Homo sapiens: one gene and its partners. The protein of the gene in region 4 binds, or shares a complex with, the protein of the main gene of each other region. Each region holds a gene or a part of one and is shown on either strand. Other genes may lie near its edges.

Region 1 (7,025 bases), on a different chromosome or scaffold from region 4:
ATTTAATTACGGTTTTTAAAGGTACTTTGCTCTCTCTCTTCCCCCTCTGGACTTTTGCATATTAGCTTTTCTGCTTGAAATGCCTCCTGTCCTCCTTCCCTAACAATTCCCATATCCTGGCTAACATCTGTTTTTTTAGGACTCAGGTTAGGAGTCATTTCTTCTCCACCTCAAGCTGGATTAGATGTTTCCATAGCAACCAGTGCTTATCAGTATCAGTGCACTTATCTCTCTATAATTGGCTACTTATATATCTGTATCCTTTATAAGGTTTCAAGGCCCTGAAGAGCCAGAACTGTGCCCTATTCTCAGAATTATATCTCAAATGTTGGAAAAGTGCTTCACATATAGAAAACTACGGTCAACATACTCCCCCCACCCCCCCATTTTTGTGAAATGCTTACATTCTCTCTTGCATTGTTTAAAAACTGGCTGGGCATATTCCTGAGAAGCTAGAGATTCCTACCCACAACTCTGGGATAACTTACAAGGGACACAGACATCTGCACCTTTCTAGGACAGTTCCCACTCCATAACCCTACCTCAAGCTCATGCAATGGGTGGCTGGATTCCCTGAGAGAGGACAAAGAAAAGGCTGAAAGATGCTCATCAGGATTAAAAGGGACTTTGCATCCTTCCTTTGAGAGATAGGGCCTGGCAAACACCCAAGACCTGTGGAGAAGTGCTCCTAGCTGCTCACCTGGTAGATATGGTTGAGTTTGAAGTGTTTGAGGAGTAGCAGAAGCAGGGTAGAGATACTCTTTACAATAATCTCCTTGTGCCTGTTCACATCGATGCCCAGCTTCATGCTCTGGAGAACAGTGATGCTACAATGGGGAGAGAAGGTATTAGTGCAGAGAGTGGCCTTAAAGGGAGCCCTGTAGGGATCCAGGTATTTGGGTCTGATACAATATACACAAGAGAGCCAGAACTTGGGAAACTTGAACTTCTGTGCCAGGGAAACCTCCAGAGTTCCCACTTATGAGCCTATCTGAAGAAATGCTCCACTGATCTCTTTGTTTCCGTCTCTCTTTTGGCAAGCTCATCCCTTGGCAATGTTCACCCAAATACCTGGGCAGCCAGTCGCTGGCACTGGTGTCACCCTCCAGATCCAGAGTTCTGAGCTAAAAAGAGCCAAGCAGAAAGCCCTGTACGGGAAAGGGGGTACTGGTGGGCAGAGACGGGGAGATCTCTTTGGAGACAATCTCTGTAAGTGTTAACAAGGTGAGTGGGGACTAGAGAGAGCCTGCAGATAAGACAGCTAGTATCCAGCAGCTGCCCCCGTTGAAGCACTCACGGCATCTCCTCAGGTAGGACATCTGCCAGGATATTGATAGAGTCTGTCTTAGCCTTAGAGGTGGGAGCTGCAGCCAGCAGAATCTTAAGCAGAGCGATCTGAGAAGTAGAAAATAAAGAAATTTACCACTGTCAAACCCACTCAGCAAGGAAGTGATTCTTCCACACCCTAACCGCCCTATAAAAAGTGTTTTAAAGCCATTCTGTAAGTTCTTCCCTCAATGACCATATCTCCCCAGCATCCAGAAAAGCAAACAGGTGCCCAGTCCTGACAGGCCTGCCTGTGAGGCTAGGGAGAAAGCCAGAGGGAGTGCATTGGCTGTTATGCTTCAAGACTGTTCTTTCCAGGGCCTGGCATGGTGGCTGATGTCTGTAATCCCAGCACTTTTGGAGGCCGAGACAGGCAGATCACTTGAGGTTGGAAGTTCAAGATCAGCCTGGCCAACATGGTAAAACTCCATCTCTACTAAAAATACAAAAACTAGCTGGCGTGGTGGCATGTGCCTGTAATCCCAGCTATTCGGGAGGCTGAGGCAGGAGAATCACTTGAACCTGGGAGGTGGAGGTTGCAGTGGGCCAAGATCGTGCCACTGCACTCCAGCCTGGGCGACAGAGTGAGACTCCACTTCAAAAAAAAAAAAAAGACTGTTCTTTTCAAAGGGGAAGATGGAAGGAACAGAGTGGGAGGGACAGTGTGTAGAAATAAGGTGGGCGGCATAAACCCAACTTCTCCCACTCTTTTCTTTCCTCTAACCTGAACCATTGGCATCTTCCCCACTCCCAGCCTGAGGCTATCTAGGACATGACAGACCACAGCAGATCTCAGAGGGACTACAGTACTTATCTCGGAGGAGGGTCCCCAGTGTATCCTGTAGAGACCCCAACTTATTCCCCACCCTTCCCAAAGAAGGACTAGGGAGAACAGCACCATCAGAGGAGCACTGAGGAAAGCTCAGAATTTGCATGTGTCAGAGAATGCCTTGCCAAAGGGGCAAAGGCTCAGGAAACAAGCTCAAGTGTTGGACAGGTCCACTTGAAATGGTTTTTAGCTGTCTGTTCCTTGCAGCAGAGAAGGGCAGCTCTGGCCTAGCCATCTCCTTACCATATACTGCGGAAGGCTGTACAGCATTCCCTGGTAGAGGATTTCACATGGCGTCTCTGGTACCACCTCTTCCCCCTATGGCAAGAAATACATGGTTTGGCAATGCCACTTTCCAGGTGACCAAAGGCTTTTTTTTCTTGGTTGTGAGGGGTGACCTGAAAAGAGCACTAAGCTGGGAGTCAGATCTAGGTTTCTACCCTAGCTGTGTTAATGACTCACTGTGTGACCTTGGTTAAGTCACATTCCTTTTCTGAGTCCTAGTTTTCTCTTTAATAGGACCATCAGGTTGGCCTGGATGACCTTTCAGTACCTGGGATACTGGAACAGATGCTACAGAAGCACTTCCTATGGTGTGGATCTGAGGCTGAAAACTCTAGAACGTTCTGTAAGCCTGGAAGGAGAGGTAGGTGGCTCAATAGTGTGGGTTTAAAAGGAAGTTGGGTAACCTATGGACTGGAGAAACAGGAAGGAATATTAGCAAAGAAGCTTTTAAGTGGATGGAAATGATTTTCTTCCCCTCTCCATTAGCCCCTACATCACTTTCTCCTTTCTGACCAGCTCCCTCATATACAACTATCTCTGTCCTGTTGATGACATTAACTAAGCCTTTTATCAGAGTGGGGAGGCTGGGGTCTCAGGGACCCAATAAGCTGCTCAGGCCACTGTCATCTTTGACCAATGCAGTTCCCTTCCTCCTACAAGGTCCCTCTATTACAGGGCAAGGGGCCACTGCCATGAGACCCTGAGGCAGGGAAGAATAACCCGCCTCCCTCTGTCCCACACAACTAATCTGCTGCTTAAATGGACGTAAGTCCTAAATGGACATTCAACAGAGCCTGGCAATCCTGGCATGTTTGCCTTCCTGCTCTCCAAAAGGCTGATTTCATACCATCTTCTCTCTCCTCAAACCAACTCCTTTGCCCACCATCCCTAAACAGTTGCTGACCCTGCCTCACGCTTCATGGAGAAAACAGAAGCAATCAGACAGGCACACACTCATCTTCTCAACACCAAATCTACCAAGAGTCTTCTTCCTTCCTTCTTGACATGAAGGATGAACCGCCTGTGCTTCTAACAAAGGCCAGTCTCCTACTTGTGCTCAGGATCCCACACCCATTTGCTTTGTTGAATGCCTCAGTCCTGCAATTATCCCCTCTCTTGGATCACTTATTTTAGGAAACAAAAAATGCTCTAGTATCTCTCAGCTATAAAACATCCTCCCCTTGACCTCACATTTTCCTTCAGCTACCATCCACTTTCTCTCCTCTTCACAAAACTTTTATATCATCTACCTCCTTTTTTGACATTCCCTTCAATACACTCCAATTAGGCTTTCAGTCCCACTACTTCACTTAGAGTTGTTCTTATCAAGGTCACTATCTTCATGTTGCCAAATCCAATGGGCACCTTGGTTCTTACCATAATGCCACTTATTAGTAGCATTTTACCCAGCAGATCACTCCTTTTTTCTTGAAAGACTTTCTTAGCTTTTATGATGATATCATAATCTCCTGGATTTCCAGCCACTTCACTGTCTTTCATATTCTTCTGGCTCCTTTCCTGACACATCCCCCCCTCAACATACTGGTGTGCCCCAGGGCTTTGTCCTGCCTTCCATTCTCTTCTTTGTCTCTACTCCCTCCCTGGGTTATCTCAGCCAGTTCTACGGCCTTTAACACTGCCTATAAGTGTTACAAACAACTCCCGAATTTATTTCTCAAAGTCAGCCCTCTCTGTAGAATTCTAGACTTTATTTCCAATTGCCTGCAGCTCCACATGGGTATCTAATGGGCATCTAAAACTTAGTATGACCAAAACAGAACTCTTGATATTCCCCCCACATCCTGGCAAATGGTACTTATTCTTGATTCCTTTCTTTGCCTCTCTATCCACATCCAAATGCACTGCAAGTCTTGTCAGCTACATCTCCAAATCCAGGTCGGCATCATCTCTCACCTTGACTATTTCAAGGGTTTTCTAACTAATCTCCGTAGAGTGCGTCTATGCTTTTCTGGTCCAATCTTTACACAGAAGCTAATGTTTTTAGAAACATAAATCAGATCATATCACTCCCCTGCTTCAAATCTCCAAAGGCTGCCTTCCCTTTGACTGCGAGTCAACTTCAAGCTCTCTACCTTTGCTTACAGGTCCTCGGCAAAGTGGCCTCAGGCCACCTCTCTGACTCCATCTCTAGGATCCCAGCCCTCGGCCCTGTGCTCTAGCCACAACAGCCTTCCTTCACTACCTCTGACACTCTTAAGCCTGCTTTCCCCTTGCTAAGGCTGTTCTCTCTGTTTGGAATGCTCTTTCCTCTGATGCTCCTATGGCTGGATCCCTGTCCCTCAGATCTTGGCTTAAATGTCACCTTCTCAGAGGTCTACCTACTCCAACTGCCCAATCTTAAGTAGTCTACTGATGCTTCTTTCATGTCATCCTGTTTAAATTTTCTTCATTGTATTTACCATTCTCTGATAGTTTGGTTTACTTAACTTTTTATTTTTTATCTTTCTTCCCCAACTTCAATATATCATGAAAGTAGGGACCTTGTCTTGCCTGGAACACAGTTACAGCCTAATATGCTGAATGAATGCATGCACACATGCTCTGTGACAACACTGAAGACAGGTTTTCTTCTACTCTCCTCCTGTGTAGGGCTTCCTTGGCTCACCAAAGACATAGGGCACTTCTCCAGCTCCTCTTCATTCTTGATCTGCACATCTGCGATGGAGATATACTTGTGCTGACAAAGATAAGAAGACATCAACAAGGGCTGAGGGCCTCATTCACATGTGTACCAGTCTCTTACTTAAATTCCCCAAAAGCAAGGAAATGTTCTGCTTATGGGTTTGTTACCCCACATAGACATGAACTCTTTCAAGGAAGGAGTCTTAATCACCTCTGCATCATCAGCACCAGTCAAAGTGCTTTGTGCACAGTGTTTTTTTAAAATTCTGTTTCTACATTTGCTGAAGAGCAGCAAATACCTAAGCATTTATCTTCAAATAAAGTGCAAGGGGAAGTCAGAAACAGGCCCCTGCCCCTGGACCACTGCCCTGAGAATTTTGATGCGTGTGCACGTATGCATGGAGTGATGACTCCATGCATACAATGGATATAGAGCAGGCTCCTACTCAATCCTGGGCCTTTGGAAGTTAGTAGACTTATGGACAGAGAGAAGTGAAAGAAAAAGAAGCAAGGAATGGGAAGAGAGAGAGAAGAATGGGAAGAGGAAAAAGAAATGAGAGGAAGAAAGGAGAATTTTAAAATCTACCTGAATATAGGAAACTGAGTAAGTAAAGAGAGACCTAATTTTTCCTATTTGGCCAAAGGACTGCAGGAGGAATGCAGAAGGTCCAGAAAGAGTCTGGTATAAAAGCCCCACCCAGTATCCAGGAGCCTGGTAATCTGACCTGCTTTGATGGCTCCCTATCCCTGAAGACTGAGAGCCCACCCCAGTCACCTGCTTTAGGGTCTTCACACTCTCATGGATGGGCCTGGGTAATCCAACCAATGTATCTGTGTCCCTGTAAAAGGCCAGACATACCAGATCATAAGCTTCCAAAGTACGAGAACTACTGATACCCCAATACCCCCCTAGAGTCAACAGACCATGCTACTTTCAACAACATCTACCCCCAGTACCCTAGACCTTCCTCTGCAAGCTCGTAGGTCCCACATCAGTGCTTCAGGACACAAAAATAATAATGGTACACAGAAATGTTTCTGGAAATCAGGAGATTTTTATAGTCTTTTGGGTACTCACTTGGTGTAGGAGTGGTAGGTTCCTACTTAAAAGGGTATATAGCCCAATGACACCTTGACTATGAAACTCCACTAATAAGGACTCAATTTTCAAGAGGCCAGTGGGAAGGATTCATGAGGCTGGGGAATGGGGGAAGACTGGATCCGTTCTGACCATGTCTCTTGTTCACAGAATTTTAGCCCATTAGAGCAGGAAGGGCCCACAGAAACCATCTAACCCAACAACCTCAGGAAAAAATTAAGCCCGAAAGAGAAATGACTTGTTGCTCAAAGTCCTACAGTTGGCTAAAAACACAAAAGTTCTTTGAGGAAAAGTGGAAGAAACTCAAGGAAAAAAGAAATCCATAGAAAGAACCCAAAGTAGTCACTGGGAGTTGTCCATGGCCTAGGGGCTCTAGGTTACATTATGACCACCAGGCACCATCCCTCATTCCAAGCTACCTGCTCCTCTGGCCCCCTAGGAACCACTCTGTAGCCAGTTCCAGCCATTCAGTCACTTACTGCCCCAGGGTGAATCCGATGAACTTGTTCCTGCTCATCTCCAAGAAGTGCTCAATGTCCTTCTGTCTGAGAGGATGGTGGAAAGACCAATCCCAGAGAAGGGAAGAAAAGCAAACTTTGAGAGAGAAAAACTTTCCGGGCTCCTATCCCTCCAATCAGAGGACTGGAGCAGTGGAAAAAGGCAGCAATCAACAGAAGGAATTTCAAACCCAGGAGTTCTGACTGCCAGACCAACTTAACGAGCCTTGAATACATAGACTACCCCATCTTGGGCCTTTGGAGACTGAAACCCCGAAGCATAGGGGTCCCTGATGCTATCAAACCTACCTGACCTTTGGGGCCCAGGGCAGGCCCTTGGGAAAAG
Region 2 (7,025 bases), on a different chromosome or scaffold from region 4:
CATGTATTTCCAGGTTACTGATCCAGCAAAATTATAAGAAACATTAAAATTCTCTGAAAATTTCAGTTTTTTCCCTTTTTTCAAAGAGAAAAACAATTATAGGAGACTTCTCCTGGCTTCACAGTTTCTGGATGCTGTGTTTTTGTTAACTGTAACACTTTGAAATAGCATTTGCTAAAAACCTTTTTTCTTTCTCTCTTTTTTGGTGATGTGGCAGAGAGAAAGACATTGAGATGTTCCTTGAGTCCAGCCGCAGCAAATTTATAGGTTACACTCTAGGCAGGTGAGTAAAAGCCGAGTTCATTTTGCTGTTAGCTCTCCCGGCCTTTGGTGTTTGGGATCCCAGGTGATTTGATGTCGAGGCTCAACACAGGGCCTTCTTTATTCTCCAGTGACACGAACACAGTGGTGGGGCTGCCCAGGCCAATCCACGAAAGCATCAAGACTCTGAAACAGGTGAGTGGCTTTGGGTGAGCTTTTGGCTTGTTTGGTCCTAAGTGAGTAGAGTGAAACCAGCCTGTAGGGAGAAGCCTTTTAAGACTGTTGTCTGCCTGCAAGAACCTGGGGTAGAGGCCGGGGTGGACTTTGCAATAACCTTGCAAACAGTCTTTCGTAAGTTTTGCTTGTTTTATTATAAGTTTTACTTGTTTTAGCTGAGCTTTTGTTTGGGACTGACTGGGAAGTCTTTAAAGATTATATTACCTGACCACCGGGCACCAAGGCATGCACCTGTAGTCCCAGCTACTCAAGAGGTTGATGCAGGAGGATTGTTTGAGCACAGGAGATCAAGGCTACAGTGAGCTATGATCATGGTCCTGCACTCTAGCCTGGGCCACAGAGTGAGACCCGGATTCTTTAAAAAAAAAAAAAAAAAAAAAAAGGATTATATTACTTGACAGTTGTTGAAATTCTAAAGAGCTCAATAAATAGCCCTCCTTTTCCTTGCCCACGTTCTCAGGCGGTTGAAATAGAGGAGTAGGCAGATGGAGATTGTAATGCCAACTTTATAGCTCATAGAGCCATGGAGAATGAGGCTTAAGAACACAGCAGTAGTGTCCTAATACGTTGTTCCAGAATTAGGCAGAGTTACCTACCAGTCCCAGGCAGTGTGGGGAGGCTCTGCCAAGCTTGGTGGCGGGGAGGAGAAGAGAGCAGACTCTCAGCAGGCAGACAGGTTCTAAAGAGAAAAGAGAAGGGTGAGGACAAGTCCGCCCTGTGTCCCCTCCCATACTCTCCGATCAGAGAAGGGAGGAGTGAGTGTGTGGACGGGGCAGAGAGAGATGAGGGGTGTTTCGCAAACCCCTGTCCCTCCACACGGGAGAGAACATTAAGAGTGGGGAAGAGGCATCTCCCCTAACAGCTATCTGGAGTGAAACTGTTTTTATGTTTTTGAAATATATTTTTGGAATTTGTAGTACTAAGTGGTCTCTCTGCAGCTAGGCTTTTTGAGTACTTGATTTTGCTTTCAGTTTTTCTCCTGTTGCTGTAGCTATCTGAAAGGCCATTTCCCTCCTTTAATTTACTTTTTTCTTATCTACCATGGGCTTCTTACTGTAGTTGCAAGAGGAAGGGGCCCTTTTAGAAAAATATTTTGGGGCCAGGCATGGTGGCTCACGCCTATAATCCCAGCACTTTGAGAGGCCAAGGTGGGTGGATCACCTAAGGTCAGGAGTTCAAGACCAGCCTCACCAACATGGCAAAATCCCATCTCTACTAAAAATACAAAAATTAGCCAGGTGTGGTGGTGCACACCTGTAGTCCCAGCTACTTGGGAGGCTGGAGCAGGAAAATTGCTTGAACCTGGGAGGCGGAGGTGGCAGTGAGCCAAGATCATGCCACTGCACTCCAGTCTGGGCAACAGAGGAAGACTTCATCTCAAAAAAATAAAAATAAAAAATATCTGGGGTTTGGGATTTTAGCTAGGGATTTTTGTGGTGACTTAATCCTCTTTCAGAAGACTGTGTTTGAAGACAAATGTGTGGGGATTTTGCTAGAGTGCAGGGAGTTTGGCCAGAGAATGTTTTCCCCAGCCCTTCTTTTCCCATCTCTCCCACCAGCACAAGTACACGTCGATTGCAGAGGTCCAGGCACAGATGGAGGAGGAATACCTCCGCTCCCCTCTCTCAGGGGTAAGTTGGAGGTCCTCAGTCCGGGCGCGGTGGCTCACGCCTGTAATCCCAGCACTTTGGGAGGCCGAGGAGGGCAGATCATGAGGTCAGGAGATTGAGACCATCCTGGCTAACATGGTGAAACCCCGTCTCTACTAAAAAAAAAAAAATTAGCCAGCCGTGGTGGCGGGCGCCTGTAGTCCCAGCTATTCAGGAGGCTGAGGCAGAAGAATGACGTGAACCCGGGAGGCGGAGCTTGTAGTGAGCCGAGATAGCGCCACTGCACTCCAGCCTGGGCGACAGAGCGAGACCATCTCAAAAAAAAAAGTTAGAGGTCCTCTTCAGCCCCCGGGATCCCCAGCTCTTCCCAGGCATTGTGCTGGGATTAGACCACAAGGTTGCCCCAGGCCCTGCCCTCAAAGAGCTCCCAGTCCACCTCCCAGTGCACAGGCTGAGACACGTCTAGTGCAGGGTTAAGAATACAGACTGAGTCAGGAACCTGCCTCTGATGCCTGGGTCCACCACTTTATGGATGGCAACTTAGGCAAGTTACTGGGTCTCTCTATGCTTTATTTCCTTGTCTGTGAAATAGGAATAATAATACCTTTATAGGGTTATAATAATAAGGATGAACTGAGTTATTACAAGTAAAATGCTTGGCACATTGTTTGTGTTCAGGGTTTGCTGTTATCATCATTAACATCATTATGTACATCACTGTTTACAGGTTTTCCTCCAGCCAGCTAGGAAGCTGGCTCAGGAGATTGTATTCTGGGCTGGGGTTTTATGCTTGTACTCATTATGTTAAAAGGGAGAAGAAGAAGTTGAGCAAGTCCCTGCAGAAACCCTCTACCAAGGCTTGCTCCCCAGCCTGCCTCAGTATATGGTGAGTGGTGCCTGCAGTGGGACACTCCCACTACACTGGCCTTAGAGCAGGCCCTGCCGTCCTCCTGCCACCTGCAGACCAACAGGAGGACTGCTCAGAGCTTAATTTTGACCCTGGGCTCTCAGACCTGTGTCTGAATGGTCTACTCTTCCCAGATTGCCCTCCTGAAGATCCTGTTGGCTGCAGCACCCACCTCAAAAGCCAAAACAGACTCAATCAACATCCTAGCGGACGTCTTGCCTGAGGAGATGCCGTGAGTATCATTCTGTGAATGAAGCAGGTGGGGCAGAAGATAGATGGAGAAGGGCAAACATTTTCCTCTTGTCAGGTTGGTTGTTGTTGGCCCAGCTCTACAGGTTAAATGTAGGTATTTTTGACCCAAAAAAAGGAAACTACGAGATTAAAGAGTTTCACTGGTTGGGGAGATGGCTTGGTCCTGTTGGCCTGGATTCTAGTGTAGACTCTACCACTGAGCAAACTCCTGAGTGAATTGGGGAAAGTCATTTCCTCCTCTGTAAAATGAATGGGGCCACCCTGGACATTTCCCCAAAGCCCCACTCTCCAGCTGTGATTGAGACACCCAGGATGAGGAGGGTTAGTTTGTAGACAGCTTGCCAGCAACAGCTGAACCTGTGCCAGGTATAGAGACATCCCTTTTCGCCAGTGATTGGGCACGCAGAATGCTGGCAAATGTCTCAGGGCGATAGAGTGAGATTCTTCAGAGCTCTTCTGCCCTGTGCCCTGTACTTGTCTTTCATGTGAGAGTCCAGATTGAGATCATGTTCTACTTTGAGAAGGACCTGGACCTTGACCTGATCTTCTGCCTGCCTGGGCCACCAGCCCTGAGCCCAGCTCCTGGGTGGCTGTGGCCCCGGAGTATGGCAGTGATGGCCGGCTGAGGGAGGAGGCAGGGGTTGGCTAACACCAGAGGGAGGATCACAGAACACTAGGCCATCATGTGATGGTCCTTGGAAAAAAGGTTCTAGAGTCAAATACTGTATATTTGATTCATGGATTTCTCTTATAAGGAGGAATTCCTCTTACAAAGATGTACAATGAGAAGTCCTGAATTAAGAAACCAATGTAACTCAGTGCTTCCTAAATTTATCTTACTCCAAAACCCTTTTTTTCCATGACATGAAACTTGCCAATATCCTGGTATTCCACAGAACACATTTGGAGAACTCAGGTTAATATGGCAGCAGAAGCTTAGGGGAGATCTTGGAAAGGAGAAGAAGTTCATTTTTGGAGGAAAGGCAGAGAAACAGACTGAGAATGTATTTGAGGGCATCATGGGGAAGAAATAAATTGTGCGAGGCTACATTGCTTGGGAGGTGGATGGGGGAGCCCTCGGCTGACTTCTGAGATGTCCTTGGGGTGAGTGGGGAGGTAGGAGTCTTTGCCCAGGGAGGCTCCGGAGTCCATCTTTTCTGTGGGCACCTAGAAATGAGGTACTGCGCATGCTGGTGGCTTACCCAGGCAATTATGTTTCCAGCACCACAGTGTTGCAGAGCATGAAGCTGGGGGTGGATGTAAACCGCCACAAAGAGGTCATTGTTAAGGCCATTTCTGCTGTCCTGCTGCTGCTGCTCAAGCACTTTAAGTTGAACCATGTCTACCAGGTACCCACAGGGCTTTCCCTCCTGTCCTGTGGGCTGGGGCCTCGGGCACTGCTGCTCCTCCAGCCCACAAGAACGGGGGCCTTGGCCTTTGACCCACTTGAACTCTGCATGAATGTTCTAAGACATGGCCCTTCAGCCAAGGCCTTTCATCCCTGGAGGAAAGAGGGCAAGGTCCCAAGGGCCGCGCCTTTTTTTTTTTTTTTTTTTCCTGTTGGCTTCAGTTTGAATACATGGCCCAGCACCTGGTGTTTGCCAACTGCATTCCTTTGATCCTAAAGTTCTTCAATCAAAACATCATGTCCTACATCACTGCCAAGAACAGGTGATGAGGGCCAGGGACCATGAAGGGGTGGATATGGTCAGACGGCAGAGTTCCCAGCTGGTATTTCCCACTGTGTCCATTTTTCCAGCACCTACGAGCCAGCACTGTGCTAGGCATCAAGACATAAAGATAAATGAGACATGGCCTCTGCCTGTGGAGAGCCCACTGTGTCAAATCTGAGTCTAGCTAGTCCTGCCCCAGGTGACTTGGTCTGTGCCTGGGCAGGAGGGTTTTCATCCCAGGATCTAGTACTTTCCTCCCTGTCCCTTCTGTACTTTTTTTTTTTTTTTTTGAGGAGTCCATGGGCTGCTTGCTGTCTCTAAGGGGCTCGGCCATGTGCCTTGTAATGCCCTATCTGCTGACTCTTAGCCCCTGCTGTTGGCCTGGTGCCAGCTGTGCTTGACATTACTTGCTCGTCAGTGTGATATACCACAGGGCGCCGGCCAGACCCTGTCTCCAGAAAGGTTTGGCATAAATTAGTTGCCCTGAGCTATCTCCTCCCCCGCCCCACATTGATTGCTGTGGGGGAAGCTGTGAGGGTCTCTTCCCCTTACAAGATCAACAAGCTGGCCTCTGGCTACAGGGGTGCTTTACAAGTTCTCTTGTAACAGATATTTCCTCATCTTATAGGTGGGGAAACTGGGGTGGGACACATCAGGTAGATTCCTACTTCTGCTCCAACAAGTGAGGGAGGAAAGCTGGGAGCTGGCTCAGGCACGGCTGCTCCACCAGGCCCTGGGCCTTTGCTCATGGTGGGCATCTGGTTCCTCTCCCCTCTGCAGCATTTCTGTCCTGGATTACCCTCACTGCGTGGTGCATGAGCTGCCAGAGCTGACGGCGGAGAGTTTGGTGAGTGGCTGGGCTCTCCTCAGCTGTCCTTTTGGCACCAGGGTCAGTGGGTAGAGAGCCTGCCTACCCCAACACTGCAGGAATAGAGGTGTCTCCCGCAGGTGAAATCACTGTGGAGTGCCCGGCTTTTAAAGCACTGTAAGTGTACAGAAGGGCCAGGAGGAGGGCTCTTGCAGAGCAGAGAGATTTGGATTTAGGGATTAGTCAGGGAGTGTGGTCTTCAGGGGCTGCTGATCCAGAGCTCACCTAGTAGAGGGCTTCTCTCCCTCAACACTGGACTCGGCAGTAGGAGCTCTGGGGCAGCCCAAGGCCACAGCTCCCAGTATCATGGTTCATATTTCCTGCAGGAAAAGTCTAGGGAGCCTCCCTCTTCCCCTAGTCCCCTGCCAGCTTCTGGGATGGAGTCCTGGGGCTGCTCTGAGAGCAGGGGATTCCTGGTAGAGGCCTGGAGACCCGGCTGTCCTGAGATCATGTGTGAGGGACTTTTGGAAACTGCTGCACACACTGCAGCCATGAGGGCTGATTGTTCCTGGGTTTACCCTGCAGGAAGCAGGTGACAGTAACCAATTTTGCTGGAGGAACCTCTTTTCTTGTATCAATCTGCTTCGGATCTTGAACAAGCTGACAAAGTGGAAGCATTCAAGGACAATGGTAAGTGAGTCAGTGTAGTCAGCAGGCTTGGAACTTGGAGCTCAAAGAAGAGTGCTGGGAGCAGGGAGTCCCCAGGGTGGGGCTCACTGTGCCTTCTCACTTAACTTTGCTGTAGCCGTATCCTTGCATTTTAAGGGCCAATTCCCAGTTCCTTGATGAATTGAACTGGAAGCTGGAAGAGGCCCAGTCATGCACTGAAACAAATCTACATTTATAGAAGAACTTTTTCCATGTCGTCTTAATCTTGATTGGTAACATAATCAGGGTTCTGAGAATCTTCCTTAACTCTGGGTCTGTGGATGCCTTTGGGGTGGGGAGGTCCTTGAATCCTCTGATAACTGTGTGTACATGTACACCGGAATGTTTCTGGAAGGAATCCATAGCTTTCTTCAGATTCCAAAGTGACACATAGTTAGGGTGACCAACCATCCTGGTTTGTCTGGAACTCTACTGGTTTTAGCATTTAAAGTCCTATGTATCAGGAAACTCTTCAGTCCAAGGGAAACTGGGATGGTTTGTCACCCTGACAGTAACTTCCAAAGGGTTAAGCAGCAGTGTGACCTGGGATGTATGCATTTATTTTTGTC
Region 3 (7,025 bases), on a different chromosome or scaffold from region 4:
TTCTAATTAAGGAGGTCCTCCCCAAGAGTTGGTTAACCCAGGATTTCAATTAACTGACAATTCCTTGCTTTCTCTCAATAATATAACACAGAGAATCATACTCATCAGCTGGGCACGGTGGCTCATGCCTGTAATCCCAGCACTTTGGGAGGCCAAGGCAGGTGGATCACTTGAGGTCAGGAGTTCAAGACCAGCCTGGCTAATATGGTGAAACCCCATCTCTACTAAAAATACATAAACTAGCCAGATGCGGTGGTGGGCTTCTGTAGTCCCAGCTACTCAGGAGGCTGAGGCAAGGGAATTGCTTGGACCTGGAAGGCGGAAGTTGCAGTGAGTCGAGATCGTGCCACTGCACTCCAGCCTGGGCAACAGAGCGAGACTCTGTCTCAAAAAAGAAAAAAAAAAAAAAAAAAAAAAAAATCACTCATCAAACTCTTAGAGAAAATGGATTTTTACAAAGACTGTATAGATGGTAGTCTGGCCATTTAACAAAGCGGGGTGGGGTTAACATTTGCTGACACAGTTTACGTACCTTTTTAGGGCTTTCTCATGCCAAAATGCTGTTAGTCACTTCCAAACAAGAGACCAAGATTTAGAGGAGAAAGCTAGGAAAAAGGGAGGCAGAGGAATAGGGTAAGTCAGTGATCCTACTTAGAGTAAAATGAGCTTGATGTCTTAAGGATATACCTACATCTCTCTCCTTGACTTGCAAATTACATCTTCTATAATTCAATGTCTTCCATTTCCAGTTTTCTTAATAAAGTTAAGTGGAACCTAACCTCCCTGAACATACACTACTGTCAGTTTAGTACTTACAGAATTTTACACTTAGGGACATCTAGAAGCAATCTCTTGTTAATGGTAAGTGTATATAGCACTTTACCATTGTATCGTTTATATATATATATATATATATATATATATATATATATATATATATATATGCTTTAAAAATATTAAATGGACAATTTGTGCAGAAAGATACAGGGAAAAAGCATAAGCATTTAAAGTCTCAAAGCATGGGCTCAAATTCTGGTCCTGTCATTCATAAACTATCTTTGTCTCTGAACAAGTCATTTCACCTCTCTATCCTTTGGTTTCTTCTTTAATATGTCTGACAACTCTAGGGTACTTAGCAGCACAAGCTTGTGGATCTTCAACTTGGTGCTGCTGAGACTTCCAGCTCATCTTAAAAGTTAACTGCACCATGTCAAGTGTATGCACTTACATATTTTGTAGAGTACTGTTTTTTTTTTTTTTTTTTTTTTTTGAGACAGAGTTTCACTCTGTCACCCAGGCTGGGGTGCAGTGGCGTACCTCCACCCAGGTTCAAGCGATTCCCCTTCCTCAGCCTCTCGAGTACTGGGATTATAGGCACCTGCCACCACGCCTGGCTATTTTGTATTTTTAGTAGAGATGGGGGTTTCACCATGTTGGTCAGTTTGGTTTCAAACTCCTGACCTCAGGTGATCCACCCGCCTCAGCCTCCCAAAGTGCTGGGATTACAGGCGTGAGCCACTGTGCCTGGCCAGAGTACTGTTTCTTAATACAGAAATTTATAAAATGGGTAAGAAGTAACTTTTTCTACACATAGATAGACAGTATACAGCAGGAGATAGTGCTCAGTTTGGAAGGAAAAAAACCTCAGTTTGAATTTTTGCTCAGCTGGATGCTATCATTTCAGTTTTGTAAATCTCTATTTCTAAACTAGTGAGAAACAGAAATACTGAAGTACTCACTTCCCCAGATTAAGAGTACTAACTGCATATAAAATAGTTACTACAGTGGCTAACACATAATAACCATTCTATTCATATTGTTATTAATATTTTAGCCAAAATTCTAGGAACCTGACATGGAATCGATTGCAACTAGGGTGAGGCAAACCAGATGCCTAGAACACAAAATTTTGCTCTGATTTGCATGACTGAGAGAGTTAGTGCTTCTTCAAAGTTTGTACCCTAGGCATATCTCTTGCCTCACCCTAGTCCTGCCCCTGCATAACATACACAATGAGAGTCAAACACTGATATCACAATGTCATAAAGGCCACCTACATAGCATATTTTCAAAACCTTTTATCTCCCATTTGCCAAAATGGATGCATAAATACACTTAGTTTTGGCTTACATAAAAGAATTTGGCCATCAGGTGCATTTTAAAACTTTTTGCCAAACCAATGTTAAAATTACTTTTCTAAATGTACATAGATAAACTTAACAAAGGAAACCATGGCCCAGAAGCAGGCTGGGTAGCAGGCTGGGTTGCACACTGAAATCAAGATGTGATCAAAGCCCTTGAGATAATTCATAAAAGGTTTATAATCTGTACAAGATAATCAAAAGTTGACAACAAAATTAAAGAGCTCATTACCTCAGAATTAGCTGATGGGAAATGGAAACAGTAACAAAATAGTAACAATTGGCTCCTACGATATTTCAAAGCAACTTGTTCAGGGGGAAAAACATACATCTCTTTAGTTGTGACAATCCTCATTTTTTTTTCCTATGTCTAAATTTTTGGTAAATTCTGATCTGAGTAAAATTTAAATGAAAACACTTGTTGGAAGACAGGAAACAAATCTGTCCCCTTGAATATGTTCATCTTTTGCCCATAAAGTTCTCAACCTAATGGTTCATGAATAATGCCTAGTTGAATAGTTGTTTGGTGTTTAATTGAGGTACATGTCTATTTTCCTTTTTATTAGTATTATTCCTTGTCTTAGTTTCTCCAATACGATGTTAATTAAAGCTTTCCTTTAAAATCCCTTAGAAATTCAACTAAACTTAATTCCTCAGAGTGTTAGGTCCTCTCTGCTTAAAGGTACAATTAAAAGAATCTGTACCACCCTGGATCAGAGCTACTTGCTTTGTATCACTTATAATCTTAGATACCTAGAATTTAACTTAATGACTCCTAATGGCTTAAGATCCTCTAAAACATGCAACAGGTACTTTCATTACTTTACACAATTTCTTTGCACCAAAAACACTGCCACAGGGCACTCAAATGTTGACAGAAACTATTAGCCCCAGACAATAAATAGCCTCTGCCTTATTTAACATTAGGTGCTAATGAGGCCAAGGTTCTATCTTGATGATGACATTTAACTTTACCTTTAGCTCCCAATTGATCTCAAATACAAATACTATTTCTTACAAGAAGAAATTAGGGCTAGGATAGTATCTGTTTTTACTGCATCTACTGTTCCTCCTGTAACCTTCACTTCGCAAAAGTGTGATTTATTTTTTAAGGGAGCATACCAAAAATAAGGTAGAACCTTGGAAATCTCTCAAATTTTGACAGTACTGCATAAATACCGATTTTAATATGGATAAAGACATAGAGAAAGATGTGCAGTTCTCAATAAAAAAAAAAAAAGGATTCCAAATGCTTTGGAATTAAATGAAAAAAAGCCTAGCAACAATCTAAACTCGTATAGGGTGCAGTTGCTGTCTAGAGGCCAGGTCTGACTCATTTAACATTCCCAACTGGCTTCTGTTGTAGTAACCTTATATAAGTCTGAGGAGGCAGCCGGTGTGTAACATCTTAGGGTTTTGTCATTCCATAACTTCAATCTCAGTTGAATTCCAGTCTATCTTGAAGTAAGAGAGAATGACTGAATAAGACAGGGAGACCCATTTCAGTGCCAGGGACCAGATGGCAGTTAGAGAAACAATCATTTATTTTTCTATCAGCTCTAACCTAAAATTGTAAAATGAACTGATGCACATGGAAGTACTTAGTATATTAGAAAGACTAAATGTCCATACAATGGTCTTTCAACCCTTTCCCCTTGTATCTACTGAAGTATAAACTCCCTAAAGAGAAGTTGTATCCATTTCTCTATTTCCTAGTATCCAACACAGTATTCTGCATAGTCAGTCTAAGTCAGCAACAGTGTTAGTTGGAGATATGGTGATGAAAAGTCAAACAGCACATACCCTTGAAGGTATGTAGTCTTGGCAGGGAAGAGAGACAGTAAAGAAATACAGTGACATGTCACACTGCCACTTGGCATTAACACTCCAGGGAGCGTACCTGCTTCACATGATACTCCTACCCTATGCAAGTTCAACAGACATGGTGAACATTTGTTTGAAGAAAACAAACAAAAAAATAACTTCACTAAAAATAACTACTGCAGTATGTGATAATTCCATTCCCTATGCAAAAGTCCCAGAATGAGACAGATAAGAAACGTGGATCTGCCACTCCCCACACCAGACTGAGAGCCACAGTGAGCTCTCACAAAGAGTAGCTTGCCACACTGATTGTGACTCTTGTATTATAATATACATATTTCTTTTTTCAATATGGTCTCTGCATAACAAGTCAAACACTTCACCTGGTACTCAAAAGAAATCTACTCCAATGCTAGAAAAAAACTGGCTGTGTTGAAGTTGTTAGTCTACAACGTGTATTTCCTAATAGGTTTTTTAAAAAGTTTGAATATTAAGTAATTTCTGCCTGCCACACTGACCTTAGCATTTAAGACATAACTGCTCTGTAACTACAACTCTTAATGCTAATTTCTCTCTCCAATGCAGTTCAATCACTAACATCATTTTTACTATAATGATGAAAAACATGGTCTCTTGAGTCAGCCAGCCTGGATTCAAATCCTAATTCCAAGCAATTTTTCCTGCAACCGTAGGCAAGTTCCTTAACCTCTCTGTACTTTAGTTTCCTCATTTAAAAACTGGAGATAATAGTGCCTCTACCTCGAAGGGTTGTCGTAAGGATTATAAGAGATCCTGTAAAATGCTTATTAGCATGAGACTTGGCACTTAGTTACTTAATACTCAATAAATGCTAGCTATTATATTAGGTTCCAGTTCATTCCAAAGAAGGTTTAAGGCAATTTCACAAGTAATATGCATTCAATAAGTAAATGAATCAAAAAGTCATTATTTAGACTAACCTCTGGTAAACTTATTCCCAAGGGACCAGCCTAAGTATATGTTAGTGACTACCACTTAACATGTTCCACTGCTGTTACCCAATAGTTCATAAGCTTGTTAATAAAATTCTTTTCTTTTTCTTTTAACCCTATAGGCAACCTGGATTCTATCAACTGTATAAGAATGAAACTGAACAGCAGAAAATCACTTTTGGGTGATTTTAAAAATGGTTATACATAACCAAAAATGTAAGGGTGAGCTTGAAAAATAAGTGTAATATAATACACTTAAGACACATTTAAATTTTGTAGCTTAAATGACAAAATTGAAATTACCATCTTCATACAGACAAAAATGAACCATCAAACCACAGTGTTTATCTTTCAGCACATAAATTATTTCTAATTGCTATAATAAATGTGCTTTCATTTTTTGCATTGTGTGTGTGTGTGTGTCCCTAAAGCATAACCCTCTAACACTGCAGCTTACTATAATATTTCAAATGCAATAACATAGATAACAATGACATTTAACTTCTAAATCACTTTTACAGTTTATATTATGGAAAAAATTACTTATCATGTAAGTGGCTTAAAATTCTTAGTAACACCTATCATAATGATATTAATTATCCAACAACATATAAAAAGCAGTATTTCAGTTTTATCCTCCACATACTGGTTATGCTAGGTAAATATGAAAATTTTATCCAAGATTCAAGTAACATCAACACTGACTTTTTAAAAAGTAAGTTTAGGATTTAGCAAAGACTTGTTTTTAATAATAAAATGGATAGTATTACCAAATTTTAAAGCCAAATTATCAGCAATCTCTTTTTGACAAGATCTTGTGGAAGAGTAAACTGGTAAATCCATGAAGGCATACAAGGCTACAGAAACTCAGGGCTGTTGACCTTACTCTATGCCATACCGTGGTACTACAAATGACTGCAGAACTTGTTTCCAAGACCAAAACCTAACACAATTTATCCCTAAAATTCAGTTTGTATGTTTTAAAAATAATCTTTTTATGCTTAAGTCTCCAGCTATAAAGCAAATAAGATTAGAAAAGTATTAGAAAAATTTTCAGGAAACCCAAAATATAAGTTCCTTTGAAACAAAAACTACTCAATTTTACAAAGCCACCTTGTCTAAATCAAGTGATATTAAAGGTATAATTCATAGGAAGATAGCAAGGTTAAAAAGCAAGAAACAAAACAAAAAAGCAAAGAAAAAGAAAAAATTATGGATTCTAGAATACGGAGATAGATCCAGATTCTAACCATGGTTCCAGTACCAACGTTCTGGAAACTCTAGCAATTTAATTAAACTTTTTTTAGTTTAATAAGTAAATTTACTTATTTTCTTGATGTCTTCAGCTATAAAACAGTATTAATACTACTACCTAGAGGAAATAAAGGTTTTTAGGGCAAAACGAGACAACATTAGGGAAGAAGAGTCCATTAGAAGTTTCTTCCATGTCTATATTTTGTTATAATGAATATCGCTTGCAAAAAGCAGGACAGTGATAAGTCTCTAAAATGCTGTGTTACACAGCAATTCTGCGGCAAATGAAAGTGATTCCTTTATCATTTCCACTTAGAAAATTAATCCTGATTTCAGAGACCTCCAAAAAGAACAAACATTTTTCCACAATTTATATTAAAATTCTGTCAATGACTCCTTTACATATAACCTAAATTGCCTAAGCATTATGGCTCATTTGAAAGTTCTTATATACTTCAATCCAGAAAGCATATCCGCTTTATTCATTTCTCTATTTCTGTCCCCAGAGAAGTGCTGGAAGCACTGTGCATGAATACACTCCTTCATTCATTCAGCAAATATTTACTGAACCCTTACAATGTGCCAGGTACTGCGTAAGTAGTGGGGTAAAACATGACAAATGAGAGGGCCCTGCTCAGGGAGCTTATAGTCCAGTGAGGAGACAGTATTTGTCAAATAAATACAGAAATAATTAAGTTTCTATTATGATGATGCCACAAAGGAGTACAGAGTATGGTGAATACATGGCGGAAACCTATTCTGATTTTGGGAAGGCGGGCAAGGCTCCCCTGACGAACGATATTTAAATTGAGACGTGAAAACTGACTACCAGGTG
Region 4 (7,025 bases):
CTGTCTGTCTGTCCCACACCTGTGACACTTTATAATCAAATTTCCCCTAAGTCAGTCTTCCCCTTCAGACTGCCTAGCTCCATGAAGGCCAGGAATGATCCGAATTCACTGGCCCAGCAAATAGCTGGTGCTCAGCAAACATGTTTGTGGGATGAGGCAATCTGGATCCCTGTGGAAGGAGCACTGTCCTGAGAGTCACAGACCTGGAGTCTTGTCCCCTTTCTGCCTGGCTGGTAGTGTCACTCTGATCAGTTAATTAAACTTTCCGGGGCTGGGCGCGGTGGCTAACACCTGTAATCCCAGCACTTTGGGAGATGAAGGCAGGCGGATCGCTTGAGGTCAGGAGTTCGAGACTAGCCTGGCTAACAACATGGTGAAACCCCGTCTCTAATAAAAATACAAAAACTAGCCGGGTGTCGTGGTGGGCATCTGTAATCCCAGTCCCTCAGGAGGCTGAGGCAGGAGAAATGCCTGCACCCGGGAGGGACAGGCTGCAGTGAGCCAAGATTGCGCCACCACACTCCAGCTGGGTAACAAGACTCTAGCCTGGGCGACAGACTCCATCTTAAAAAAAAAAAAAAAAAAAAAAAAAAAAAACACCAAAAAACCCCACCTTTTTGGGCTGTCTTCCCCTTTGTGAAAGGACAGCTTGATTATGTCAGGAACACCCCACATGTGCTACCCTTCTCTGCTCCTGTGGCACTTTCCTCCACGTAGCCTTAACTTTGCCTCAGAATCTTTCTCAAGGCAGCACTTTAAGATGCCATGTCAATCAACCAGGATTGGCACACGAAGCGAGACGCAGTTAGATGATCATAGAGATCTTATTGCTCAAACGCCCAATGGTTCCATCGGCCTAATGGAAACCTCAGCTCCTATATGCTTCCCTTCTGAGAGTGTCAGTGTCCCCACCAGTGGGACAATGTCAACGGTCGCTCATCTACCTCTGTGAACTTGTCAGCCACCATGTAGCGGACGCGCCAGGACTTGTCTTCAGCGGCCTGGCGCAGAGTGGGCATCACCAGGGCCTCCAGATCCTCCTGGGGCAGAAGCTGGGCGATGTTCACGCACGCCTCCACCGCCAGCAGCCGCACCGAGTCCTAGGGAGAGGAGAGGAACAGTGGGAGGGCAGCAGAGGCCTTGCTGAGCTCTGGGATTCTCTTTCATGGGCAGGAACCACCAGAAGGACGGGAGAGCAGAGGGCCAGGAAGCAAAACTCACCTGCTCGTCAGAGGCCAGGTTGGAGAACATGGGGATGATCTCACTCTTGACGTTGTCCAGCTCCAGCACCTTGGCAAACTCCCCCAGCTTGGAGGCTGCGGCCCGCCGCACCATGGGGGTGTCATCTGAGCACAGGTTCCGGAAGTACCTGGGAGTCGGGGACGGGGATCCTGAGGCAGCAGGCAGTATGGCAGAGAGGAGCAAGCACAGACTCTGCAGTTGTGTGGGTCCAGGTTTTAGCTGAATGACCTTGGGCAAGTGATGACCCCCTCTCTGTCTTCCCAGCCCTATGAAACGGAGCTGATAGTAACAGTACCTACCCCACAGGTCCGCATGAGGTTTAAATGAAAATAGTGTGTGTGAGACACTTCGCAGATTGCGCATAATAAATCTAGTCAATGCTAAGTGCTGACGATTACATCATTCCCATAAAAATTGCTTAACCAACGAGCCAGGCACAGTGGCTCATACCTGTAATCTGAACACTTTGGAAGACCAAGGCAGGAGGATTGCTTGAGCCCAGGAGTTCAAGACCAGCCTGAGCAACATAGTGAGACCCCATCTCTGCCAAAAATAAAAAATGAGCCCAGCGTGGTGTTGCACACCTGTGGTCCCAGCTATTTGAGAGGCTAAGGCAGGAGGAATGCTTGAGCCCAGGAGGTTGAGGCTGCAGTGGGCTATGACTGCACCAGTGCACTTCAGCCTGGATGACAGAGCGAGATCCTATCTCAAAAAACAAACAAACAAAAAACTGCTTAACTAAGAGGCAGGTCTAGAGCCACAGAAAGGCTTTATTTTTCAGCAGCAATTGCTTCGATCAAAGGCGGTGGGGGCCAGTGTAAGTATCTAAGCAAGTGTACAGCCATAAACCAGAGTTCTGGAGTGAGTCAGGCTCAAACCCGGGCTTGACGGTCAATCGTTTGCAAAGTAGACGAGCAGGAGGCTGAAAACTGAGGTGGTTTATCTGCCAAAGGCACTGGACCTGGGACAGGCTGGAGATACCATCAGATGTAAGTTGCTGAAAGTTTTTATGTTCCAGATTTTGCTCTAAGCACTTTATGTGTGATAATTCTTTTAAATCCTCACATTAACCAGTGGGAAGGAGGACCTGTCATCATCTCAATTCCTAAGTGAGCAAGGGGGCAGAGGTGGGTAAACTGACACGTGGCCGTGTCCAGAGACCAACTCTCGAGGATGTGGCCTATCAGGTGGTAAGCAGGAGTGGGAGTGGAGAGAGTTCAGGGGCATTTGGGCCCCAGCTAGACCAAAAGGAGTCTGAGGCTTTAGAGAAGGTTGGAGCTGAGATGGGAGCTTGGAGCTTCCAAGGAGGCAGAGACTCACTGTCGAAGTTCCGCCTTCACAGCACTGGACACTCGGGGGTAGCAGACGGAGAAGAGGCCGCAGGCCGAGGTGCGGGAGGTGAACCAGTCGCCGCCCGCCAGCCGCTTCACTAGCGGCACAAAGTGCGCCTCCAGGTCAGAGGGCGAGTGCTCGTGTGAGATGGCCCGTAAGGACTCCACTGCCTTGTCCCGCACCACTGTCTCCTCCACTGTGGCCAGCGACTCCAGCGGTGGCTGTGGTGAGAACACAAAGTCACTGGACAGCTCCCTCTCCACCATCCGCAGCCCTGGAGCCCCATCCTGCACCCCATCATGGGCTCATCTCCTCAGAGAAAACTTCCCTATTACCCATCCCGACCTTCATTAAAATAGCCTTTAAAAATGGTTGCAATGAATGACTCAAAGGAAAAACGTAATATTATGCCAGCCAGCAGAAGGTCTCTGTCAGCGTGCCTTCCACAAAGGTTCTTATTTAGGGGTCCTTGAAGGAGTTTCACTGGGGTCCATAAACCTTAAAATTACACACGTTGCTTTCTGAGGAGAAAGTTCTTAGCCTCTCAAAGTGCAATGATCATCACTGACACTGTGTAGAACATCTACTCACTGTGTGTACTAGGCAGGACCTCCGTGTTGTACCAGGGGTGCTTGTTCTTCCTCACTGAATTCTATAAAGCAAGTCCTGATTTTAAAGAAGAGAAAACGGGCCGGGCGCAGTGGCTCACGCCTGTAATCCCAGCACTATGGGAGGCTGAAGCGGGTGGATCACGAGGTCAGGAGTTCAAGACCAGCCTGGCCAATATGGTGAAACCCCGTTTCTACTAAAAATACAAAAAAATTAGCTGGGTGTGGTGGTGCGCACCTGTAATCCCAGCTACTCGGGAGGCTGAGGCAGAAGAATCCTTGAACCCGGGAGGCAGAGGCTGCAGTAAGCCGAGATCGCACCACTGCACTCCAGCCTGGGCAACACAGCGAGACTCCGTCTCAAAAAGAAAAAAAAAAAAAAAAAAAAGAAGAGAAAACTGAGGTACAGCCTGGCTTGCCCAAGCTAGTAATAGCTACAGGTCAGGATCGAAAACCTGACCTAAGCTTCCCATGAACAGTTACACACAGCTCTGGTGACTGAATTGGGATCTCATGTTTCTGGGGGACTATGGGGCTCGGGACTGCTCGCTGGTTGTTACTGTGGGCCTAGAATGACTGTGCTCCTTCAGATACATACGACTGGCTCTCCACTGTATCCCCAGAGCCCAGCAGCACTCTTAGCACAAGACAGGAACTCTTAATTAGTGACCTACTGAAGGGAGACTCAACTTATCCCAATATGTTCAAATAAAGGTGTGGAGGTCTCTGATCTGAAATTCAACTTGGGCTGACAGGTATTTAAAGCAGGAAAAAAAAAATCATAAATGGAAATGCCTCCAGGGCTCAGTCAAGTAACAGAATGATGCCATCAGCCAAGGTGACAGGCAGGGGTGGCAGGAGGCATGAATAGGAAGAGGCAGGCACTGTGGCACCCTGGAGGGCATGTAGCCCAGGGAGGGCAGGTGCTCCCCAGCTCCAAGGACTGTCACTATGGGAGAATGCAGCTGGCAATAAGCAAATCTGGTTTTCCAAATGCAGCCCTCAAAAAAACTCAAGAATCTTGTATGTGAGAAGTCTCATGTAACACATGCTACAACATGGATGAACCTTGAAGATGTTATGCCAAGGGAAATTAGCTAATAGTCATAAAGACAAATATTTTCTGATTCCACTTATATGAGGAATCTAGAACAGTCAAACTCCTACGGTGGCTGCCAGGGGCTGGGGGAGAGGGAAGGGGGAGCTCATGTCCAATGGGTTTGGAATTTCAGTTTGAGGAGGTGAAAAATTCTGGAGATGGAGGGTGATAATGGCTGCACAATGTGAATAAACCTACCGCCACAGAGCTACACACTTTAAAATAATTAAAATAGCACATTCTATGTATATTTTTACAGTAAAACTAAGAATAAAAACAAATGTTTAAAAATAGCATTTAAAAATAGTTGCAATGAATGATTCAAAGGAAAAATGTAATACTAAGCAAGCCAGCATAATGTCACTGTCACAGGTCCTCATGCTATCGTGACGTCTCAAGTTCAGGACAGTATCATGGGAGTGTGACCATAGGTGCGGTGTGACTGGGATACTGCAGGGACAGAGTTCCTCTTGTTCACCTCAGTTCTCCCACCACCTGGGCTGGCACAGAGAAGGTACTCAATCAACACTTGCCAAGTGACTACCGGTGGAACTTACGGCAATCTGTTATAAGGAGGCCTGGGACAGAGGCTGAGCAGTAATTATGTAAGCCAAGGTTCTCTTCTCCTGTAGGTTACTGCAGGAAGTAGTTCTCAAAGGATGATCCCTGACCACCCTGCAGCAGAATCACCCGGAGGCCTATCCCAGCATGGACCAAAACAATCAGAATATCTGGAGGCAGGGCCCAGGAAGGTACACATTTAAGAAACTGCAATTGATGCCTTTGCACAGTGAAGACTCACTACTGTGAAGCCTCTCTGTGAAGTCTGGGGGCAAGGGTTCTCAAACCTGGAGACCACACAGGGTAGGGAAGAGTGTGAACCGCCTAAAATCCTGTGTACTTTTATAAGAAGAGGGTCCAGAATTTAACAGATTCTCAAAGGGATCCATAATTCCAAAAGAGTTAGGAACTGCTGGCCGGATGCGGTGGCTCACGCCTGTAATCCCAGAACTTTGGGAGGCCAAGGCAGGTGATCATTTGAGGCCAGGAGTTCTAGACCAGCCTGGCCAACATGGTGAAACCCTGTCTCTACAAAAAATACAAAAATTAGCCAGGCATGGTGATGGGTGCCTGTAATCCCAGCTACTTGGGAGGCTGAGGCTTGAGAATCACTTGAACCCGGGAGGCAGAGGCTGCAGTGAGCTGAGATTACAACACTGCACTCCAGCCTGGGTGACAGAGCGAGACTCTGTCTCAAAGAAAAATAAAAATAAAAAGAGCTGCTGACACAGAAACAACCCTCACACCCAGGCACGGTGGCTCACACCTGTAATCCTAGCACTTTGGGAGGCCGGGGTGGGTGGATCACCTGAGGTCAGGATTCCGAGACTAATCTGACCAACAAAGTGAAACCCCGTCTCTACTAAAAATGCAAAAATTAGCTGGGTGCGGTGGCACACGCCTGTAATCTCAGCTACTCGTGAGGCTGAGGCAGGAGAATCACCTGAACCTGGGAGGCAGAGGTTGCAGTGAGCCGAGATCCCGCCACTGCACTCCAGCCTGTGCAGCAAGAGTGAAACTCCATCTCGGGAAAAAAACAAAACAAACAAAAAAACAATCCTTACACTGCAGCTACAGGAGTCTCTGTAATTAATTCCATTTCACCACTGCTGAGAGCAAGGGCCGGGAGTGGGTCTGACACATCTCTGGGTTTCCATAGCCTAGAGACCTTGCTCAATGTTTGTGGAATGAAGAAACTACACAAAGCCATTTTCTATTTCTTATAACCTGTCAAAATCCAGGTTAACAGCCACCTCCTCCAGGAAGCCTTCCCTGACAACTTCCCATCCCACCTAAGCAGGTTAGGCGCCTTCCCTGGGTTTAAGGACCCCCCTGCCTCCCTTGTTTACAGCTCTGAAAGCAACCAGGAGCCCTCTGAGGATAGCACATAGGAGTGGCTAAGAATTAGGGGCCTGGGATCGAATCTGGACTCTGCCTCTTCCCAGCTCGGACAATTCACTTAAATCTGCCTGTGCCTCAGTTTCCTCATCTGGGCAATACAGCTAACATCAGTATACAACTGTGTAAGGCTCTTGGGATGTGCACTGCAGGCAACGAGCAAGCACAAGCTATTCTGATCTAACTCTTCTCTGGTTTCCAGCACTGCCTGGCCCAGACAGCCCCAGGATGTGTCTGCTGGCTGACATGAACGTCAGGCACATCGGTCACAGGGAACTGCTTCCCAAAAGGAAGCGTGGCTTGACTGGGACTTTCCTCACTGAGAATGTTCTGTTGGGAGACCCTGGCCAGGTAGGAGAAGGATCCCTGGGTCCCAGCCCAGCTCCACAGCAAGCCTGAGTCCCAACCTCAGTTGCAGACCCTGGGGGCCCTTGTTGAAGCCTTGCGGTTTCATAAAAATAATGTCTTCTGCTCCTAAGTCCTCTGAGAAGCTACTGAAAGCTATGAATTCACTGCTCAGAAGTTCCACCTGACAAATACCAGGCAGGGGCTACAGATAATTTTGTGAAATTCAAGGAACCCCTTCTAGGCTGGCCCCCAAACCTCATCATGCTCATGTTAAGCCCTGTTTTGTGTAAAATGTATGAAACGATCTATTTGTATACAATTTTCTGTGTGTCCATACGCACAAATTATACACATATGCCCAGATGAAGGCTGAGATATCCGAATTTAATGGTAACTATCAAGTTTCTTTACATAATGCTATTTGGGAAGAAACAAAT

Evidence for each region.
Region 1: PPP2R1A (region 4) and STRIP2 share a complex: the UniProt entries of both Homo sapiens proteins name them as parts of the core of STRIPAK complex.
Region 2: PPP2R1A (region 4) and STRIP1 share a complex: the UniProt entries of both Homo sapiens proteins name them as parts of the core of STRIPAK complex.
Region 3: PPP2R1A (region 4) and PDCD10 share a complex: the UniProt entries of both Homo sapiens proteins name them as parts of the core of STRIPAK complex.

The regions. Positions count from the first base shown.
Region 1 is NC_000007.14:129,458,414-129,465,438, reverse strand, and holds part of STRIP2 (striatin-interacting protein 2), read right to left. Parts: coding exon 6,989-7,025; intron 6,728-6,988; coding exon 6,662-6,727; intron 5,923-6,661; coding exon 5,859-5,922; intron 5,139-5,858; coding exon 5,067-5,138; coding exon of another isoform or gene 4,942-5,066; intron 2,852-4,941; exon of another isoform or gene 2,790-2,851; coding exon of another isoform or gene 2,709-2,789; intron 2,474-2,708; coding exon 2,399-2,473; intron 1,396-2,398; coding exon 1,298-1,395; intron 828-1,297; coding exon 701-827; intron 1-700. UniProt on the Homo sapiens protein: Plays a role in the regulation of cell morphology and cytoskeletal organization. Required in the control of cell shape. Calmodulin-binding scaffolding protein which is the center of the striatin-interacting phosphatase and kinase (STRIPAK) complexes.
Region 2 is NC_000001.11:110,044,623-110,051,647, forward strand, and holds part of STRIP1 (striatin-interacting protein 1), read left to right. Parts: exon of another isoform or gene 1-65; intron 66-217; coding exon 218-283; intron 284-392; coding exon 393-456; intron 457-2,057; coding exon 2,058-2,129; intron 2,130-2,919; coding exon 2,920-2,994; intron 2,995-3,149; coding exon 3,150-3,247; intron 3,248-4,489; coding exon 4,490-4,616; intron 4,617-4,837; coding exon 4,838-4,938; intron 4,939-5,720; coding exon 5,721-5,787; intron 5,788-6,333; coding exon 6,334-6,438; intron 6,439-7,025. UniProt on the Homo sapiens protein: Plays a role in the regulation of cell morphology and cytoskeletal organization. Required in the cortical actin filament dynamics and cell shape. Part of the striatin-interacting phosphatase and kinase (STRIPAK) complexes.
Region 3 is NC_000003.12:167,724,869-167,731,893, forward strand, and holds part of PDCD10 (programmed cell death protein 10), read right to left. Parts: intron 606-7,025; exon of another isoform or gene 533-605; intron 1-532. UniProt on the Homo sapiens protein: Promotes cell proliferation. Modulates apoptotic pathways. Increases mitogen-activated protein kinase activity and STK26 activity. Important for cell migration, and for normal structure and assembly of the Golgi complex.
Region 4 is NC_000019.10:52,207,030-52,214,054, reverse strand, and holds part of PPP2R1A (serine/threonine-protein phosphatase 2A 65 kDa regulatory subunit A alpha isoform), read right to left. Parts: intron 2,796-7,025; coding exon 2,563-2,795; intron 1,370-2,562; coding exon 1,222-1,369; intron 1,101-1,221; coding exon 945-1,100; intron 1-944. UniProt on the Homo sapiens protein: The PR65 subunit of protein phosphatase 2A serves as a scaffolding molecule to coordinate the assembly of the catalytic subunit and a variable regulatory B subunit.